2 separate regions of the Homo sapiens genome follow, and region 2 is linked to region 1. Evidence: fine-mapped expression QTL. A gene starts in region 1. The other region holds a variant in brackets. All regions are shown on one strand. Distances are from middle to middle.

What was found. PIP is the estimated chance that this variant, and not a neighbour inherited with it, causes the effect.
Region 2: its variant is fine-mapped to the expression of LBHD1 in B cells (Fairfax 2012, PIP 0.95).

Annotation. Positions count from the first base shown.
Region 1 is chr11:62,666,202-62,677,384 of GRCh38, reverse strand. LBHD1 (LBH domain containing 1) reads left to right here and starts at 5,118. Exons shown (of 7, transcript NM_024099.5): 1 at 5,118-5,821; 2 at 7,344-7,503; 3 at 7,582-7,744; 4 at 9,638-9,862. The coding sequence starts at 7,354. It overlaps CSKMT (citrate synthase lysine methyltransferase), which reads right to left. Exons shown (of 3, transcript NM_001043229.2): 3 at 9,277-10,989. The coding sequence ends at 10,334. It overlaps UQCC3 (ubiquinol-cytochrome c reductase complex assembly factor 3), which reads right to left and starts at 5,712. Exons shown (of 2, transcript NM_001085372.3): 1 at 5,520-5,712; 2 at 3,699-5,432. The coding sequence starts at 5,639. The coding sequence ends at 5,271. UBXN1 (UBX domain protein 1) reads left to right here. Exons shown (of 9, transcript NM_001286077.2): 8 at 380-572; 9 at 746-885. The coding sequence ends at 795. RefSeq lists a silencer at 4,909-5,038 and enhancers at 5,279-5,438, 4,805-5,546, 5,547-6,286, 6,287-7,028, 10,726-10,825 and 2 more.
Region 2 is chr11:62,795,601-62,805,124 of GRCh38, reverse strand. NXF1 (nuclear RNA export factor 1) reads left to right here. Exons shown (of 21, transcript NM_006362.5): 2 at 1,147-1,333; 3 at 1,553-1,706; 4 at 2,865-2,948; 5 at 3,079-3,183; 6 at 3,306-3,386; 7 at 3,494-3,563; 8 at 3,708-3,796; 9 at 3,924-4,031; 10 at 4,639-4,748; 11 at 6,550-6,586; 12 at 7,739-7,807; 13 at 7,887-7,942; 14 at 8,558-8,665; 15 at 8,780-8,838; 2 more. Among named protein-coding and RNA genes, the nearest start is that of NXF1, 5.1 kb to the left of the region's middle. The variant AG/G (reference allele first, on the strand shown) is at 4,519.

The DNA of each region.
Region 1 (11,183 bases):
ATCTCTACTCTTGGGAAAGGTATCAAATTTCACCTGCCCCAGTTGTATTTAAACCCATACCTCTCTCTTACTCAGCAGTTACCCTTTTACTTGTTCATGTTTTTATTTGGTTTATTATGTAGCTATCTGGTGATGTGGTATTTATCCAGATTCTTTTGTATAATCTTATCCTTGTCTTTCTTAGGTTGTGAGGGAGCTGGGAGTCTCTCATCCGCACTTAGTAAAGCGGAGCCTAAGTGGCTGTTCATTTGGTGCTTTAAATAGTAGTTGTGCTGGTTCAATCTAAGAAGAAGGGGGCCCAGCTTTAGCTCTTTTCCTTACTTGGGCACCTCATTCAGTTTTGATGCCCACAATACTGAGTATCTCCCTTGCCCTTTAGGTCAGGCTGCCAGATGGGACCTCACTGACCCAGACGTTCCGGGCCCGGGAACAGCTGGCAGCTGTGAGGCTCTATGTGGAGCTCCACCGTGGGGAGGAACTAGGTGGGGGCCAGGACCCTGTGCAATTGCTCAGTGGCTTCCCCAGACGGGCCTTCTCAGAAGCTGACATGGAGCGGCCTCTGCAGGAGCTGGGTATGGCTGCAAGACTAGAAACCAGGACTAGAAACTGGGGGAGTAGGGAGGCATGCCTAGGAAAAGGAGGGATGCAAAGAGAAGGGGCTTTGTGAACATGGTGCAAGGCCAGGAATTTTGGGAGCAAAAACCAAGTATCCTTGTGGTTCAAGCCTGTTTTCTTCCATCTTCAGGACTCGTGCCTTCTGCTGTTCTCATTGTGGCCAAGAAATGTCCCAGCTGAGGGCCTTTGTCCCATTGTCCCTCTGTGACCCCTTCATCTTTGATAAAGCACTGACATCTCCTTCCTAATAAATAGACCCTGAGTTCTGTACATGCCTGACTCCTTCCTGAATGGCTGGGAGGGACAAAACTAAGGCAGAGGAAGAGGCTAAAACGGAACAGTAGACCCTCTTCCTCATCTTTAGTTTCCAACAAAGACACTTGTTTGTAATCTCTGGGTCTGATTAACTGCTGGGGAAGTTGCGGAGGAGAGGTGCTAAAAGGGGTGGAGAGTACATTGGATGGCACCTTTTACTCCTATGGTAAGACAGAAAATAAAAGCCCAGCTGCTGCTTTTTTATTTTTATTTTTGAGACGGAGTCTTGCACTGTTGCCTGGGCTAGAGTGCAGTGGCGCAATCTCAGCTCACTGCAACCTCTGCCTCCCAGGTTCAAGCGATTCTCCTGCCTCAGCCTCCCTAGTAGCTGGGATTACAGGCACCCACCACCACGCCCAGCTAATTTTTTCCATTTTTAGTAGAGACGGGGTTTTGCCATGTTGGCTAGGCTGGTCTCAAACTCCTGACCTTGTGATTCGCCTGCCTTGGCCTCCCAAAGTGCTGGGATTACAGGCATGAGCCACCACGCCCGGCCTGCTGCTTTATTTATTTATTTATTTATTTATTTATTGAGAACATGAGAGTGCCTTTTCATTTTAAAAATGTTTGGAAATATGCACAACTTTGATACAGCTTTGGGGTGCTCCAGACACCCATGGCCACTTCATGTAAACCACTGAGAATTTCTTTTTTTTTTTTTTTTTTGAAATGGAGTCTTGCTCTGTCACCCAAGCTGGAGTGCAGTGGCACAGTATTGGCTCACTGCAACCTCCGCCTCCTGAGTTCACGGGATTCTTCTGCCTCAGCCTCCCAAGTATCTGGGATTACAGGCGCGCACCACCATGCCCAGCTAATTTTTTGTATTTTTAGTAGAGTCAGCGTTTCACCATGATGGCCAAGCTGGTTTCAAACTCCTGACCTCAAGTGATCCACCCGCCTCGGCCTCCCAAAGTGCTAGGATTACAGGCGTGAGCCACCACGCCCGGCCACCACTGACAATTTTTAGAGTACTTTGAGAGACTATACAATATCATGATCAAATTTTGTAATTAAACCTAATGAGGACAACAGGCACTTCTCAAATAAGAGATGTGTCCATTACGGGGCTCCCCTACTCTTAAGGTACTCACAAGGAGGCAGATAAACAGTTTCTTTTTTTTTTTCCTTTGAGATGGAGTTTTGCTTTTGTTGCCCAGGCTGGAGTGCAATGGAGCGATCTCAGCTCACTGCAACCTCCACCTCCCGGGTTCAAGCGATTCTCCTGCCTTAGCCTCCTGAGTAGGTGGGGTTACAGGCATGCACCACCACGCCCAGCTAATTTTTTTTTTTTTTTTTTTTTAAGAGACAGGGTTTCACCTTGTTGGTCAGGTTGGTCTTGAACTCCTGACCTCAGATGATCCGCCCGCCTCTGCCTCCCAAAGTGCTGGGATTACAGTCTTGAGCCACTGTGCCTGGCCAGATAAACAGTTTCTTTATTCATCCTCCTCCTCTTCATCTTCCTCTTCCACCTTTTTCCAGGCAACTTTAGCAGGACCCTTTGCATCATCAAACCAACCTTTCTACTTATAGTCAGGAACATCCTTCTTATACTTTTCCTTCAGCTTTGCTACCTTAGTGATGTCATTTAAGTTATTTCACATCTCACCCAGAAAACCTAGCTTCTTAATAGAATAGGAATAGTGCCTATTTCTTGGGATTGTCATGAGGGTTACATAATGCTGGTATAAGATGCTTTAGCATAGTGCCTGGTACCTAATAAGTCCCCAGTAAGCATTAGCTACTAAAAGGATAATTTTATTTACTTATTTGAGGTGGAGTCTTGCTCTAGATCCCAGGCTGTAGTACAGTGGTGCAATCTCGGCTCATTATAACCAACGTCTGCCGGGTTCAAGCAATTCTGCCTCAGCCTCTCGAGTAGCTGGGATTGCAGGTGTGTGCCACCACACCCAGCTAATTCTTTGTATTTTTTAGTAGAGATGGGGTTTCACCATGTTGGCCAGGCTGGTCTTGAACTCCTGACCTCAAGATCCACCTGTCTCAGCCTCCCAAAATGCTGGGCTAAAAGGGTTTTGTTTTTTTGTTTTTTTTTTTTGAGACATCTCCTCACTCTGTTACCCAGGCTGGAGTGCAGTGGCACGATCTCGGCTCACCGTAACCTCTGCCTCCTGAGTTCAAGCGATTCTCCTGCCTCAGCCTCCCGAGTAGCTGGGACCACAGGCACGTGCCGCCATGCCCAGCTAATTTTTGTATTTTTAGTAGATACAGGGTCTCACCATGTTGGCGCTTCTCTCTGCTTTTTAAAACCAACCAAGAAGCACTGATGAGCTTATCTATGATAGTCCCTCTGGCTGCTGATCACCCCACCCTGCTGTCCTGTCAAACTGCTCCTGACTCCACTCCTTCCTGGACTAGGAGAAAGGCCACAGTTACTCTGTAAAGATCACATGTAACATGTGTTCCAGCAGCTGAAAAGAGCACCAATACTTATATCTGGGTTTACACCCCAGTGTTAGAAAGCTTTATTTGGGCCAGGCACGGCGGGTCATGCTTGTAATCCCAGCACTTTGGGAGGTTGAGGCGGGCAGATCACCTGAGGTCAGGAGTTCAAGACCAGCCTGGCCAACATGGTGAAACCCTGTATCTACTAAAAATACAAAGATTATCCTGGCATAGTGGCGCACCCCTGTAGTCCCAGCTACTGGAGAGGCTGAGGCAGGAGAATCGCTTGAACCCAGGAGGCGGAGGTTGCATTGAGTTGAGATCGCTCCATTGCACTCCAGCGTGGGCAACAACACAGAAATTCTGTCTCAAAAAAAAAAAAAAAGCTTTATTTGGTGTTCTGACTTTAATAACAGCAGCCTTTTTTTCAATTGCAGTCTTGCTTGGGAACCACAGGATAGACAAAAGAGGAGCAACTTGGTTGACTAGGCTGTGGGGCTTTGACCCCACTTATTTAATCCCCTCAGTGGCAGCTCCAATAAATCCTGACCAGATCCAGAGATTGGGGACCACTTTACATTTCTAAATTAATGTTTTACAATAATCCTCGTAGTTATGACCTTTCATAGAACAGGGCTGAGGTTTGTAACATGCTGGAGTTCAACCAGGATCTGTGACTCAAAGCACACTCCTTTTACTACTAGTAAGTCAGCCTCCTAAGCTTGTTTAACCAGAGGTTAAATAATGGCCACAGAAAGCATTGTGGCATATGTTAAGTGCTAGATGCCCCTCCAATCTCGCTCCAAGGACAGGAGTCCTGAGTGTCCACTATAGGCATCCATTACTTCAAGACTTCCCAGGATAGTTCAGATTTCAAGAATGTCCCACGGTTATCCCTGGAAGTACACTCCAACCTGACACCACATGACCTGTTTTGAAAATGTGGTTGGCCGGGCGCAGTGGCTCACGCCTCTAATCCCAGCACTTTGGGAGGCTGAGACGGGTGAACTGCCTGAGGTCAGGAGTTCGAGATCAGCCTGGCCACATGGTGAAACCCGCCTCTACTAAAACTACTAATATCAGCCGGGCGTGGTTGCGGACGCCTGTAATCCCAGCTACATGGGAGGCTGAGTAAGGAGAACAGCTTGAACCCAGGAGGCAGAGGTTGCAGTGAGCCAAGATTGCGCCACTGCACTCCTGCCTGGGTGACAAGAGCAAGACTCCATCTCAAAAAAAAGAAAAAATGTGGCCGCGGCAGGGCGAGGTGGTTCACGCCTGTAATCCCAGCCCTTTGGGAGGCCGAGGCGGGCGGATCACCTGGGTCTGGAGTTCGAGACCAGTCTAGCCAACATGGTGAACCCTGTCTCAACTAAAAACACAAAAGTTAGCTGGGCTTGGTGGCGCGCACTTGTGATCCCGGCTACTCGGGAAGCTGAGGCAGGAGAATTGCTGGAACCCAGGGGCGGAGGTTGCAGTGAGCCGAGATCGTGCCACTGCACTCCAGCCTGGGTGACATTGACTCCGTCTCAAAAAAAAAAAAAAAAAAAAAATGTGGTCAGATACCTATCGGGATCAGCCTCTTCTGGTGGGGTGGGACAGGCAGCAGCTCCAGGCCGCGCCCCCAGCACCGACCACGCGTCTCTAAGCATTGGTAGGTGTCGACTGCAGGGCTCATTCTGGGTGGAGGAACATGATTTTATTGGTTCTTTCAGTTCACCACATCCGACTCGCGTCTCGGCCCTGGCCCGCCTTGCGGACCTTAAAGCAGTCAGTCCAGGGTTTGGGGGAAACGTGCTCACCCGACGGCAGCTCACAGGACCCCGGAGAGTCCTGGCATGGTATCTCGGTCCGGACTCTCCGCTGGGCCCACGAAGGAGAAAGGCTGCCTCGGATTCCTGCGCCCAAGCCAAGGTCCGGCGCCCACGGAGGCAAGTCCGGTCTCACGGTGACCTCCCGCCGGCGCCGCCTTCGCCGCCAACCATCCAGTTCTTCCTCCAGGCCACGTTCTCCTGCGTGGTCGCTGCCTCCTGCAGAGTGGCCAGCAATAGCTGCTGGGTCCTGGCCGCCTCCTCCCTGCTCCTTGGGTCCTGCAGTGGCATCTCCTGAGGGCAGGAAGGGGAGTTCGCAGGAGCTCCAGTCCGGGGCTCTCCACCCGCCCACCCTTCCTCGGGACTACCAGTTGCTTCTACCTTTAGCATTTCCTGCTTCCGCCGCTCTCCCGGGGTCACGATAACGAGGAGCGCGTAGCCCACGCCAGCCCCTGCGCCCAGCATTGCGACTGAGATCAGCATTTTCCGCAAGGAATCCATGGCCGCCTGCACAGCCAGCGGAGCGCCCACGGGAGCTCCCCGCAGCCGCAAGCTGTTGCCGCGCGGTCTCACTACCCCTTGGCGCAGGCTAGAGCGCCCTATAGCAGAAACCATAGATAAGCGGCCGGCTAGAGAGGACCTGCTCGAGGAAACGTTTGGAATCCGGAGCGCTTGGATCTCAGGTTTAGCTGAGGGGGTTGAGGTGTCCAAGAAGTGCTGGCACCAAGGGCTGAGCGCGGGGACCCTGTGTCCTCAATTCCGGGGTGGGATTGCTAGGGGGAGAGTGCGTGTCTTCATGGTTGCCGTGGGTTTTATGATTGCCCATTTTTCTGTCTTCCGACGTTTCCCGATCAGTAGAGGCCCGAGCTGTGCTCTGTGGTTTCCTGCAGTCACCCGCGCGTTTTCAACACAGCGCATGGAGGGCATCTACACACATACACATCCCTCTCCATCCCCTCAACTCTGGAACAAACACTCAAAGTCAAGTATACTGGTTGGAGAAATGGGTAATAGTTACTTATCTTTAACATTTATTTTACAAACAACCTATTCCTTTTCTCGTCATGGTACACACTTGGTATTGTTTGGGTTTTTTTTTGGTTTTGTTGTTGTTGTTAGTGTGTGGGCGTGGTTTTGTTTGTTTTTGGAGACAAGGTCTCGCTCTGTCGCCCAGGGCTGGAGTGCAGTGGCGCGATCATGGCTCACTGAAGCCTCGACTTCCAGGGCCCAAGCGATCCTCCTGCCTCAACCTCCCGGATAGCTGGGATTACAGGCGTGCACCACCACGCCCGGCTGGTATTGCTTTTTGTTTTGCTTCGTTTTCTTTTTTGCTTTTTGAGACAGAGTCTCACTCTGTTGCCCAGCTGGAGTGCAGTGGCGTGATCTCGGCTCACTGCAAGCTCTGCCTCCCGGGTTCACGCCATTCTCCTGCCTCAGCCTCCCGAGTAGCTGGGACTACAGGCGCCCGCCACCACGGCCGGCTAATTTTTTGTATTTTTAGTAGAGAAAGAGTTTCACTATGTAGGTCAGGCTGGTCTCGAACTCCTGACCTCGTGATCCGCCCAATCCGCCCACCTCGGCCTCCCAAAGTGCTGGGATTACAGGTGTGAGCCACCGCGCCCGGCTGTTTTGCTTTGTTTTCAACCACTAAAAGGCTGGATTCGTGTAACATACTGAATTCTGCTTTACAGAAGAAAACACCTCTTAGCTGTGTGACTGATTATAGGCAAGTTCTTGTGCCCCGGTTTCTGCATCAGAAAATGAAGCTTATAACAACAGTACTTGTCTCACAGTTTTAGGATAATTAAATTAGTTATATGTAAAGCAATTAAAACAGCTCCTGCCAAAGAGTAAACACCATATAAATATTCATTAAATAACATACAAACATACCAGGTTGGGAAAAATCAGTAAGCATAGGAGTCAGGAAATTCCAAGTTGGTTATCACAACTCTTGGCCCACAGGGCTTTAATCCAGGTGCCCTTGTCTCCTACCCTTGTTGCCATCCCAGTGTCTCCAGGGAGTAAGTAGAAATAAAGATCCTATCTCACCTCTTGGGCATTTTCCCCTCCCCTGAAAGCGTATAATCGCTTAGCACAGTCGGTGCTTAAGGGGCCAGGCTCCAAAGAAGATTAAAGGAACAGTTTGTGGGGTGCACTGGGCAGCAGTACTCTCCTCTGAGTTCAATCATCTTGCACTCTAAGAATCACCACCATGGCCCTTGTGCCAGGGAGAAGCAAGGAGGATGGGCTTTGGACTAGAAATAGCCCAGGCTCCTCCCAGCATCCAGAAAGTCCCAGGCTGCCCAACCCTCTCTGGGACAGAGGAAAAATTGGCAAGGTTGAAGGTCACCAGCACATTCAGGTTAGTACTTCCTCAGCCTGTGTCTGGCAGCTGGCTTACCCTCCAGTTTGGCCCAACCTCCCTGCTGTCCCTATTCAGGATTTCTCTCAAAAGTCCCATCTGCCGTCTATTGTGGTGGAATCCAGTGAGGTGAATGAAGAGAGTGGGGATCTCCATTTGCCCCATGAGGAGCTGCTGCTGCTCACTGATGGTGAGGAAGAGGATGCTGAGGCCTTCTTCCAAGACCAAAGTGAAGAGCCAGGTGAGGGAGGTGGCTCATTCAGGGGGCCACTGTGAGCTGAATGTTCTGGGCAGAGCCAAGATGGAAGTCAGTTACGGCCCCTGCATTCAGCAGTGCCAGGCACACAGCAGGTGCTCAATAAATGTGAAGATGTGGGAGAGAAAAGGCAGCTGGCAAAGTTGATGAATTGTAGAGAGCAGTTTTGGTATCAGAATGGGTGCCATCCTTTAATCTGTACTTTCTTTTTCTTCTTTTTTTTTTTTTTGAGACTGAGTCTCGCTCTGTCACCCAGACTGGAGTGCAGTGGCGCGATCTCAGCTCACTGCAAGCTCCGCCTCCTGGGTTCACGCCATTCTCCTGCCTCAGCCTCCCAAGCCGGCCAGTCTTGGGGTAATTTTATCTTTTCCTGCAGCAATGTAAACATTTTGAAAGTACAGATTAAGGCTGGCCGCGGTGGCTCACGCCTGTAATCCCAGCACTTTGGGAGGCTGAGGCGGGCAGATCACAAGGTCAGGAGATCGAGACCATCCTGGCTAACATGGTGAAACCCCGTCTCTACTAAAAATACAAAAAATTAGCCGGGCGTGGTGGCGGGCGCCTGTAGTCCCAGCTACTCGGGAGGCAGGAGAATGGCGTGAACCCGGGATGTGGAGTTTGCAGTAAGCTGAGATCCCACCACTGCACTCCAGCCTGGGCAAGAGCCAGATTCTGCCTCAAAAAAAACAAAAAACAAAAAAAATTACCCCAAGACCAACTACCTAAAAATAGTTTACATATTCGATACCTTCTCTTCTAGACTTTTTTCATCTCTGTGTACTGTTTTTTTGTTTGTTTGTTTTGGTTTTGGTTTTTTTTTTTGAGACAGAGTCTTGCTCTGTCCCCCAGGCTGGAGTGCAGTGGCAATGACCTCTGCTCACTGCAAGCCCTGCCTCCTGGGTTCGTGCCATTCTCCTGCCTCAGCCTCCCGAGTAGCTGGGACTACAGGCACCCGCCACCACGCCCAGCTAATTTTTTTGTATTTTTAGTAGAGACAGGGTTTCACTTTGTTCGCCAGGATCTCCTTACCTTGTGATCCGCCTGCCTGGGCCTCTCAAAGTGCTGGGATTACAGGCGTGAGCCACCGCGCCCGGCCCCGTCTGTGTACTGTTACAGAAGCTACTTTTTTTTTTTTTTTTTTTTTTGAGACAGAGTCACCCTCTGTTGCCCAGGCGGAGTGCAGTGGCAGGATCTCGGCTTACTGCAACCTCTGCCTCCCAGGTCCAAGCAAGTCTCCTGCCTCAGCCTCCTGAGTAGCTGGGGCTACAGGTTCAGGCCACCACGCCCGACTAATTTTTTTTGTATTTTAGTAGAGATGGGGTTTCACCATATTGCCCAGGCTGGTCTCAAACTCCTGAGCTCAGGCAATCTGCCCGCCTCAGCCTCCCAAGAAGCTACATTCTTTTGAGCATTTACTATGTACCAGGTACTATGCTAAACACTTTTACTTCATGATTTTCAGAACAACCCAATGAAGGTACTTCCCCTTTATAAATGAGAAAATTGAGGCTGCGAGGTTAGGCTCTTAGTGATATAATTGCTCTATTTTTTTATAAGCAAAAAATACCACAGAAATTAATTTTTAGCTCAAGTGCAGCAGCTTATCATGGCCCATTGCAGCTTTGACCTCCCAGGGTTCAAGCAGTCCTCCCAGCTCAGCCTCCTGAGTAGTTGGAACTACATGCCTGTGCCACTATCCCGGGCTCATTTGTTTTTGTAGAGTTAGGGGTGTCACTTTATTGCCAGGGCTCAAGCAATCTGCCCACCTTGGCCTCCCAAAGTGCTGTGATTATAGGTATGAGCCAGCATGCCTGGCCTAGTTTTGTAATTTGATAATATATCAGTAATATTTTTGTCCCCTCTCTTCCTCCATCCCAGGCTGGGCTTGGAGCCCACAGGACCCTAGAAGTCCTTTAAGAACATTTAACGCTGGACTCAGCTGGGGGCAGGACCAGGATGAAGAAGATGCTTGTTGGATTCTTGAGGACACAGCATGTCTGGAAGCCACCAACCACTGTCCCTTCTGGGACTCAACAGGCTCCCGTGTTTGTAGAAGTGGCTTTGTGGAATATTCCCATCTCCTGCCTCCTAATAGCTTTGAGGGTAAGTATTGTTCCCTCCCCCTCAAATATCTCATCCAGGTTTATGAAGCTCCTTATACCCATCCTCTTACAATCTCCTTTTACAGGTGACAAAAATGAGGCTTACAGGTTAGGCCACTAGATTATACAAGTCAGTCAGCGCAGGGGTTTTGATTCAGTTCCTGTCTGCTGCTTTTAGGAGCTCCAGTTAGTTGAAACTGGGGAATGACCCAATTGTACCTTCTCTTTTCAGCATTCATTTTGTGCTAAATATTGCGCACATCATTGTATGTAATCTCCGTAACTCCAAGTTATTCTCACTCTGCAGATGAGTAAACTGGGGAACAGAAACATTCAGCAATATGGCACCCAGCTAGTAAATGTGGAAGCCAGGACTCAAATTCTCACTTTGCAGCCAGATAGCTTGCAAAGACAGTTCTTCAGCCCTCTCCTTGCCCACAGAAATACTAGGGTCAGGACTACTAAAATGTCTTTAATGAGAGCCTTGAATCAAGTAAGCAAAGTAGGTGATGCCCCTGAACGGGCCTAGCTCCTGCACAGTCACAGTCCAGCCATAGGACCCTTGTTCCAGGCAGGGCAGTCGCACATCAGGGTCCTCATCTGAGAACTGAATCAGGGTCCCCTGAGGGTTTAGAACCCTCAAGCATTCTGATAGAAGCTGGTAAGCCCTAGGCAGACCTCCCCGGGCAACAGCATCCCATGTGCCTTTGTCCAGCAGTAGTTGGAAAGAGCCTGAAGAAGCCACAGCCCCCAGGTTCTGAGCATCGGCGTGCATGAAGTGGAGGCTTGAGGCAGGGTGTCCAGGGCATAGAGGTGTTTGGCCTGGGCCACCCTCCAGGAGGCTATTCATGTGGGCCACAGCCACAGGAGAAAAGTCCACCCCCAGCACATCCACTGGGTGTGGAGATTTGGTGTAGAGGCCTGTACATAGGCTGGAAGTCCCACAGCCCACATCCAGCACTCGCAGAGGACTGGCAGCCTGTGCCTCCTGCAGCAATGGCAGTAGGAGCCCCTGGACTTCGTCGTATCCAAAGAACCAGTCGAAGGTGGGGACAGTGCCCAAACGAGGCTGGGCATGCAGCCGATCCCAGAGACAGCGGTCCGCCAGGCAACTATCAGCCAGTGAGCCTGTGGGCACGGTTGGAGGGTGTCACTTGGTCTATGTCGCCACTGCAAAAACGTCGTATATACACACTGGCGTCTTTTTTTTTTTTGAGACAGGGTCTCACTCTGTGACCCAGGGTTGAGTACAGTAGCACAATGATGGCTCACTGAAGCCTCCACCTCAGCCTCCTGAGTAGCTAGGACTATAGGCGCCATCG
Region 2 (9,524 bases), 130 kb before region 1:
GCTCGGAGCGGATGGCTCGGGGGTAGGGTGACGGGATTCCTTTGAACTTTGTGGGTGGTTGATGCCTGTCAGTTAGGTTTGGCGGCCTGACTCTTCCTTTAATGTGAGTGAGTGCCCTGCTCGTGGGCTGCCCTGATGCCCTATTTTTTACTGCGTCCAGTCGGTCTTGAACTCTCGGGCCTGGGCTTTGGCTTAATATTCGAGACTTACACATCAACTGGATATTCTAGTCTGAACACTACACTGGGTGTTAGTTCTTTGTAGTAAGTTAGGAGTGCGTGGTGGAGGTTGAAACCGTGAATTTAAAACTCTCGTTTTCCACCCCCTTAATGTGGAATAACAACAGCATTTCTTAAGAGTGTGTGTGGGGAGGGGAAATGAGATCATTCCTATCAAGTGCCTGAAGCATAGTGGCCGGCACTGGAGAAAGTTCTCAGTGAATGTTAGCTGCGCCTTCTATGTTCTTTTTTCCTAGGGTCATTTGTTGAGATTCATTGTTTACAGAGTGCTGGGTATTAGGCAGACCTCTTTTGGGAGTTAGGGACCTTTTTTAAGACGCCAGTCCTACACAGCATGAATCAGAAGGTCATCTTCCTGGAGAGCATTCCAGGGTCCCTGGTTAAGCACCCTAGCCTGGCACTGCCACTAGAGCCTGAGTCTAGAATTTGTCTCCTGAGTTAAAGGACATTTCTGGCCATGGAAACGAAGAGCTCCTCACAAAACTTCAAAGTGGCAGTTTGAGAACAAGGAGAATTTTTAGAGGATCCTTAAACTGGTCATATTTGTAACTGGCGTCTGCACTGTATAGACAAAGTACTGAGTGGCAGATTTCAGGTGGCTTTCAGAGGTCTGATTTGTGTTCAGTTACACTTTTGGGTCTCACATTTCTACATCCTGCTTCTCTCTAATTCCAGTTTCTACTTCATTTTTCAAAAGCCCTACACAGTTTTCCAGTAACTTTTCCCTGATGCTGCCCTCCCACAGAGAGGGTTCTTTCCTGTGGATAGGGAGCGGAGTTTGCATGGAGATGGCCTCTGTCGTTAGTATGTATCTCTTCCAATAGTTCAGAGTACTAGAAGCTATGATTGCCACACCAAACCGGACCAGTTACTTACTTCTAATTTGTGTTCCTGTTTCTAACTCTAGAACACGATGATGAACGCGTTAATTTCCCTCAAAGAAAGAAGAAAGGCCGGGGTCCCTTCCGGTGGAAATATGGTGAAGGAAACCGTAGGTCTGGAAGAGGCGGTTCTGGTATTCGGTCTTCCCGCCTTGAGGAAGATGATGGAGATGTGGCAATGAGTGATGCCCAGGATGGTCCCCGAGTACGATAGTGAGTGACCAGTTGGTCTGGTTTGAATTTAGTGGCTCATGAGATTATATGGCCCTTTTACTGTCCATGTCATTTCCTTTCCCACCTGTTAGAGTGAGAAATGCCAGGACTAGCTTAGTGATTAAACAGTCTTAGTTGTAGTCCCACTAACAGTGCAGGAAGGCCTTTGAGAAGACTTTCCTAGCATTTGTGGTCATTTTATTCTCTGCTTACCCACAGCAACCCCTATACCACCCGACCTAACCGTCGGGGTGATACTTGGCATGATCGAGATCGCATTCATGTTACTGTGCGGAGAGACAGAGCTCCTCCAGAGAGAGGAGGGGCTGGCACCAGCCAGGATGGGACCTCAAAGAACTGGTTCAAGATTACAGTGAGTACTTTGAGAAAGTAGATGGTACAGTAGAGATAGGAGGCCACGCTGAGAGTGGAGATGTTTAATTTTATTCCACAAAAATTATTATTATTATTTTTTTTAAATGGAGTCTTGCTCTGTCACCCAGGCTGGAGTACAGTGGCGTGATCTCGGCTCACTGCAGCCTCCGCCTCCCGGGTTCAAGCTATTCTGCCTCAGTCTCCCGAGTAGCTGGGACTACAGACACCCACCACCACGCCCGGCTAATTTTTGTATTTTTAGTAGAGACGGGGTTTCACTGTATTGGCCAGGCTGGTCTCGAACTCCTGACGTCATGATCTGCCCGCCTTGGCCCCCCAAAGTGCTGGGATTATAGGCATGAGCCACCGCACCCAGCCCAAAAATTCTCCTTGTCATCTGATTACTCCACACTCAAGTATCTATCTTTTCTCCTAGGAATCAGTATCTTCCAACACCTTAGAGCAGGTTCAGAGAAGGGGTGGAAGAGAAATATGAAAATTTTGGTTGGGGGAGGGAGTAATTCCTCTGGATGTCTTCATTTGGCTCAGGCTGAGTGTGGGGCTTGGAGTCCCTGGAGTGCCCTGGAGTTCTCTGAGGGGCAGGCAAGGTGTAAATAATATCTTGGAACTTTTAGAATAAATAAAATTGATTTTTTTTTGAGAGATTATAAGTGTAAATGGGCTGGGTACAGTGGCTCATGCCTGTAATCCCAGCACTTTGAGAGGCCGAGGTGGAGGATCACTTGAGGCTGGGAGTTCAAGACCAGTCTGGGAAATACAGCAAGACCCCTTCTCTACAGAAAATTTTAAAATTAGCCGGGCATGGTAGTACATGCCTGTAGTCCTAGCTACTCCAGAAAGCTGAGACAGGAGGATCGCTTGAGCCTAGGAAATGAAGGCTGCAGTGAGCTATGATCGCACCACTGCACTCCAGCCTGAGTGACAGAGTGAGGCCCTGTTACTAAGAAAAAATAGTAAGTGTAAGTAGACAGAAAGGAGTTAAAGAATCTATGTGTATCTCAAGTAGAAAACCTAGTACTGGTCCTTTCTTTAGATAGTCTTTAAAAGTTTGGTAGAAGGTATAAAAGGCATTGTATTGGGTCTGCTATTCAGCCTTACTTATCATTCCCTTCTTTTCTCTTTCTCTCATTTCTAGATTCCTTATGGCAGAAAGTATGACAAGGCATGGCTCCTGAGCATGATTCAGAGCAAGTGCAGTGTGCCCTTCACCCCTATTGAGGTAAGACAAGGCCTGAGTGGCTGGCTGGCCAGGCACCAGGGATGGTGAAGGGGCAAGCTGGACTCCCAGCGTAATGCCCCTCCCCAAGGGCTCTGGACTCCCAGTGTAATGCTCCTGTTTCCTCTTGTAGTTTCACTATGAGAATACACGGGCCCAGTTCTTCGTTGAAGACGCCAGTACTGCCTCTGCATTGAAGGCTGTCAACTATAAGATTTTGGATCGGGAGAACCGAAGGGTGTGTTTAAAGGGCCTGGCTTGGCTGGAGGTGGAGGTTGGTGCTCAGAGCAGGGACTGGGTCTTGTTCTTGCGGCTTAGGCTTCCCTAGAGTTTTCTGTGCCCTCTGTGTCTTCCCTCCAGATATCTATCATCATCAACTCTTCTGCTCCACCCCACACTATACTGAATGAACTGAAGCCAGAACAAGTAGAACAGCTAAAGGTGAGGCAGGCTCAAATTAGATGTTTCCAACCCAGTCTTACTACTTCTCACACCCCCACCCCCCACACACAAACCCAGTGACCACTAAACCCTTCTTTTTCCTCTAGCTGATCATGAGCAAACGATACGATGGCTCCCAACAAGCCCTTGACCTCAAAGGCCTCCGTTCAGACCCAGGTATGGTTGACAGCAGTAGTTCTCAGATAGGTGGTGATAAGGTGGGATCTGTCAGGGAGGGAAAGTTTGAGGATGTTTTACTGCTAATGCTGGCATGGGCAAACCCTCTCAGTCTTCCCTTTCCTTCCCTTCTGCTTCCTGAAGATTTGGTGGCCCAGAACATTGACGTTGTCCTGAATCGCAGAAGCTGTATGGCAGCTACCCTGAGGATCATTGAAGAGAACATCCCTGAGGTAAGGCCTTTGGCCCAGTATTAGGCATGAGGAAGCAGGGTGTGTTAGATAGGAAGTGGCTGGAGGGCAGATTCGTCTCTGATCCACTTGCTGGTGGTGCCTCCTCTAAACTCTTCTCTCCTCACAGCTATTGTCCTTGAACTTGAGCAACAACAGGCTGTACAGGCTGGATGACATGTCTAGCATTGTTCAGAAGGCACCCAACCTGAAGATCCTAAACCTTTCTGGAAATGAAGTGAGAATTGATAGCTCGGCTATATTTTTGAAGGGGTGGGTAGAGGGTGTAGAGAGTTTGTCCAGTGATGGCAAGAGGCAAGAGAGAGAACTCAGGCCAGATGTGCTGGTTTGCAACTCTAATCCTAACACTTTGGGAGGCCAAGGCAGGAGGATCACTTAAGGCTAGGAGTTTGCACGCCTCTAGTCCAAGCTGCCCCAGGGGGCTGAGGTGGGAGGATTGCTTGAGCTCAGGAGTTCAAGGCTGCAGTGAGTTATGATTGTGCCGTTGCATTCTAGCCTGAGCAACCTGTCTCAAAAAAATTTTTTTAATTTAAAAAATAAATTAGTCGAGCATGATGTCACATGCCTGTAGTCCTAGCTACCCAGGAGTCTGAGGTGGGAGGATCTCTTGAGTCCAGGAGTTTGAGGCTGCAGTGAACTATGATCATGCCACGGCACTGAACTTGGGTGACAGAGTGAGACCCTGTCCCAAAAAAAAAAAAAAA[AG/G]AAAAAATTTTAAAAGATTAGAAAAGATCTCAGAGCTAAGCGTAGGGACTGGGGGTATGGGGAGCCAGCTGGCTGTCTTCACCAGGGTCTCCTCCCTTTGTTCCTTCCACCCTTTGCAGTTGAAGTCTGAGCGGGAATTGGACAAGATAAAGGGGCTGAAGCTAGAAGAGCTCTGGCTCGATGGAAACTCCCTGTGTGACACCTTCCGAGACCAGTCCACCTACATCAGGTCAGTTGTAGCCTGTGTCTCCCCTCCTGGGGACCTTCACCCCCTGGGAGGCTGAGCTAATGCATCCTGACCAGGGCCCGTCTGCGGAGATGTGCAGCCCTGAGCTGGAACCACCTGTCCTTTGAGAGGATCGCGTGCTCCCCACTTTGGTCTGTCTGTGTCTTCCAGCTTTGTCCTGAGATGTTCTCTCTTCTCTTCTGACTTGACTATCTGTTTGCTGGGTCTGTGGCCTTTCTCTTTCTTCCTGAACACAACCTTTTCTAGAATCTCCCTACCCTGTTGTTCCAGGAAAGGCATCTCCCCTTTCTACTCTAACCAGAGGGTATCTTGTACATACCCTATAGATGGGGTTGCCTTGTGCCAAGAGCCTGGTGTCCATGGGTTGAGGAAGCCCTCCCTACCTGGGACTTCCTACTGAGATGGGCCTTCCCTCCTTTGTACTGTGATGGCCCCTCTTGCCCTTGCGCCAAGAGGGACCCTTTTCTCAGGATCCACTTGCCCAGGGCTGTTGCTGTCCATGCTGAGGTTGAGGCCTCCTAGGGGCTGGTGGCATGCAATCTGTCTCTCTTGCCCAGTGCTATGAGCTGGGCTCTCCCTGAAGAAGAAACCTGGGTTCCCCAAGATGTGACCAGAGCTGGGGCCCCGCCAGCAGGCGAGGGAATCCCAAGGCAGGTGCTGGGCGTGGAGGCCACGGGGGCATAGGCTACCAAGGAGACAGAGAACTGACCCCCTCGGGGGCGCTGCCTCTCCCTCACTCACACACTGCACGTCACCCTGTTTGGCCCCGGTGGATGGCTGGTTAGCCAGAGACGGGTAAGATTCCTCAGGGAAGGAACAACCTAAGACAGGCACAGTCGCAGAGGGGCCATCAGGAGAGAACTTGGGGGCAACAGAGGTGGGGCATGGACCCTCACCCCCACAATCCTACAGGGGCCTGAACCCTCACACCTTCTGAGGGAGGTCTCCTGCCCCCATGGCTGCTTTGCTTCCCACGCCCAGTTCAGATCGGGACCCAGGTAGCAGACAGAGACCTGGCCAACAGCAAGTGCCCACTCACCACAGCAAGGATTTGTTTCTCATTTCTACCTTGGACCACAGGGATGGGGCAGCTGAAAGAAAGGGCTGTGTCAGGGTGTCTTTCTCCCTTTTCTCCCTCATTTTTCTAGATGCTTTTTTGCCTTGTAGTTCTTTCTCTTTTTCTTTGCTTTCTCTTTCCTTTTTCTGTCTGTCTCCTATACCTCCCCATCTCTCCCTTGCCCCTGCCCCATCTTGCCTTTTTCTCTTTTTCCTCCTTTTCCTTTCTTATTCCTTTGCCTCTCCTCTTCCTGAGCCCCACCTGCTCATCTCCCTGCCCCAACATCCTGTGCCATCCCTGTGGTGTGTTTGGGTCTTGGCCAAAGCCAGACCTGGCAGAACTGATGGATACCTGGTGAGGCAGCGGAGCCCCTGGGCTCCCACCCCATTCCCTCCTCCCGGGGCTGCACAGGTGAGTAGGTGGAAGGTAAGGGGGGCAGGGAGGGGAAAGAGGTCCTGGGCTTAAAGCCTGGGCTTGGAGTACTGCTCCTTGACACTCAGGGTCAGGCAGAGAGAAAAGAGACAGCCTTCAAGGCAGTCCATGTCTGGGTGCCCCGGGTCAGGTGGGGAGTGGGGGCCATTTTTCCCTGAGCACAGGCTGGGAGGGAGTGGAGGGATGAGCAGGATGGGATGGGCTGTCCCTCGGGTTTGGTATATTTGCTCCTAGAGCAGCCCAGGAGGCACGGTGGCTCTGAAGCATCACTCACTTCTGTCCCGTTCTTGACAGCGCCATTCGCGAACGATTTCCCAAGTTACTACGCCTGGTAAGTCCATAATTTTTTCATTCTAACAAGCACAGCATCTCTCACTCACAAGGATTCCTGGATAGGTTTCTTTTTCTTTTTCTTTTTCTTTTTTTTTTTTTTATTTGAGACGGAGTTTCACTCGTCGCCCAGGCTGGAGTGCAACAGCATGATTTCAGCTCACCGCAACCTCTGCCTCCCAGGTTCAAGCGATTCTCCTGCCTCAGCCTCCTGAGCCCAAGTAGCTGGGATTACAGGCATGTGCTACCACACCTGGCTAATTTTTGTATTTTTAGTAGAGACAGGGTTTCACCATGTTCGCCAGGCTGGCCTTGAATTCCTGACCTCAGGTGATCCACCTACCTCGGCCTCCCAAAGTGCTGGGATTACAGACGTGAGCCACTCGCACCAGGCCCTTTTTTTTTTTTTTTTTGGATGGAGTCTTGCTCTGTTACCCAGAGTGCAGTGGTGCAATCTTGACTCACTGCACCGTTTGCCTCCTGGGTTCAAGTGATTCTCCTGCCTCAGCCTCCTGAGTAGCTGGGATTACAGGCATGTGCCACAATGCCCGGCTAATTTCTTTGTGTATTTTTAGTAGAGATGGGGGTTTCATCTTGTTGGCCAGGATGGTCTTGAACTCCTGACCTCAACTAATCCATCCACCTTGGCCTCCCAGTGTGCTGGGATTACAGGTGTGAGCCACTGCGCCCAGCCTGGATCCCTGGATACTTTTCATGATGCGTTTACACTTGACTTCTGACCCTTCTCTCTTAGTTCTTCAGTCTACTTATGCACCCAGCCTTTTTCTCTCTGGTTTAAACTGTCAACTTTCTTTTTTGTTTGTTTTGTTTTTTGAGACAGGGTCTGGCTCTGTCATCCAGGCTGGAGTGCAGTGGCACAATCGTAGCTTACTGCAACCTTCGCCTGCCAGGCTCAAGTGATCCTCCCACTTCAGCCTCCCAAGTAGCTAGGACTCCAGGCACGCACCACCATGCCCAGCTAATTTTTGTATTTTTTTTGGTAGAGATGGGTTTTGCCACGTTGTCCAGCCAGGCTGGTCTCAAACTCCTGAGCTCAAGCCATCTGCCTGCCTCGGCCTCCCAAAGTTCTGGGATCACAGGTGTGAGCCACTGGGCCCAGTCTACACTGTCAACTTTTACTTCCTTTCCACAGGATGGCCATGAGCTACCCCCACCAATTGCCTTTGATGTTGAAGCCCCCACGACGTTACCGCCCTGCAAGGTAGGAAGCATGGACAGAGTAAGAACTTGTGTGTGGAGAGAATACTGCTTCCATGTTCCTAATACCTGTTTGATTTCAGGGAAGCTATTTTGGAACAGAAAACTTGAAGAGTCTGGTCTTGCACTTCCTGCAACAGTAAGTATCCCAGGGTCCCCCCTCCCCACCCCGAGGTTGAGGGGGAATGGTGGGCAGACCCAGGCACACATCAATCTTTTTGTTTTGTTTTTTGTTTTGTTTTTTTTTTTTTTTTTGGACAGTGTCTCACTGTGTCACCCAGGCTGGAGTGCAATGGTGTGATCTTGGCTCACTGCAACCTCTGCCTCCCAGGGTTCAAGTGATTCTCCTGCCTCAGCCTCCCCAGTAGCTGGGACTACAGGTGTGTGCCACTGCACCTGGCTAATTTTTGTATTTTTCGTACAGATGGGATTTCACTATGTTGGCCAGGCTGGTCTCCAACTCCTGACCTCATGATCCACCTGCCTCTTCCTCCCAAAGTGTTGGGATTAGAGGCGTGAGCCACCGCACCTAGCCATTTTTTTTGTATTTTTAGTAGAGACAGGGTTTCGCCATGTTGCCCAGGCTGGTCTTGAACTCCTGGGCTCAAGCTATTCACCCATCTCAGCCTCCCAAAGTGCTGGGATTACAGGCATGAGCTTCCATGCCCGGCCACAACTCACTCTTGGGAGCTACTGGGTCCTTGTATGGCTGTAGACCACAGAGCCCATACTTTCTTTTTTGTTTTTCCCATAGGTACTATGCAATTTACGACTCTGGAGACCGACAAGGGCTCCTGGATGCCTACCATGATGGGGCCTGCTGTTCCCTGAGCATTCCTTTCATTCCTCAGAACCCTGCCCGGTTAGTATCACATCCCAGAATCTGCCCGGGACCACTGGGTTTCCCAGCAGATACAGGGCACACCTGCTGGCAGCACTGCTCTGAACACCACGTCCATTCCTTTTATTCCCCCAGAAGCAGCTTAGCCGAGTATTTCAAGGATAGCAGAAATGTGAAGAAGCTTAAAGACCCTAGTAAGTGTGTGATACGAACAAAATATGGGAAAAGGGCATGGGAAGGAATCAGTCAGAACTCAGGAGTGTGTGGCAGCACCACTGAGCTTTCTCCTCTACCCACAGCCTTGCGGTTCCGGCTGCTGAAGCACACGCGTCTCAACGTTGTTGCCTTCCTCAATGAGTTGCCCAAAACCCAGCACGACGTCAATTCCTTCGTGGTAGACATAAGCGCCCAGACAGTAAGCTCCTGCTTGCGCCTGACAGAAGCCTAGAATTGGGGTGGGGGTGGCATTTAATAGGCAAGGGGGGGCACTCAGGCTCTGAGAAGTGTACATTGTACCTGATGCTGCTTCTCTTTCAGAGCACATTGCTGTGTTTTTCTGTCAATGGAGTCTTCAAGGAAGGTAAGAATCTTTAGAGTCCCGAGTTTGTAGCGTGGTCCCACCCCCAGCTGGAATTTTCCTCAGCACTCTTAGCTTCCCAGCTACTTTCTCTCCCATTTTCTTTTTGAGCTCCTTCTCCCATTCTGCCCCCAAGCCGTCTTGGCTTGGCCTACCTCTCCACCTGTCCTGTCTGGATGTGGGAAAAGCCTGGGGATTAGGAGGACTTTGGAGTCAGGCAGTTCTTAGTTTCCATCCTAGTTTTGGTTGTGCGGGGCTGTGGACAAGTAACATTACCTCTAAGACAGATTCTTTATTTGTAAG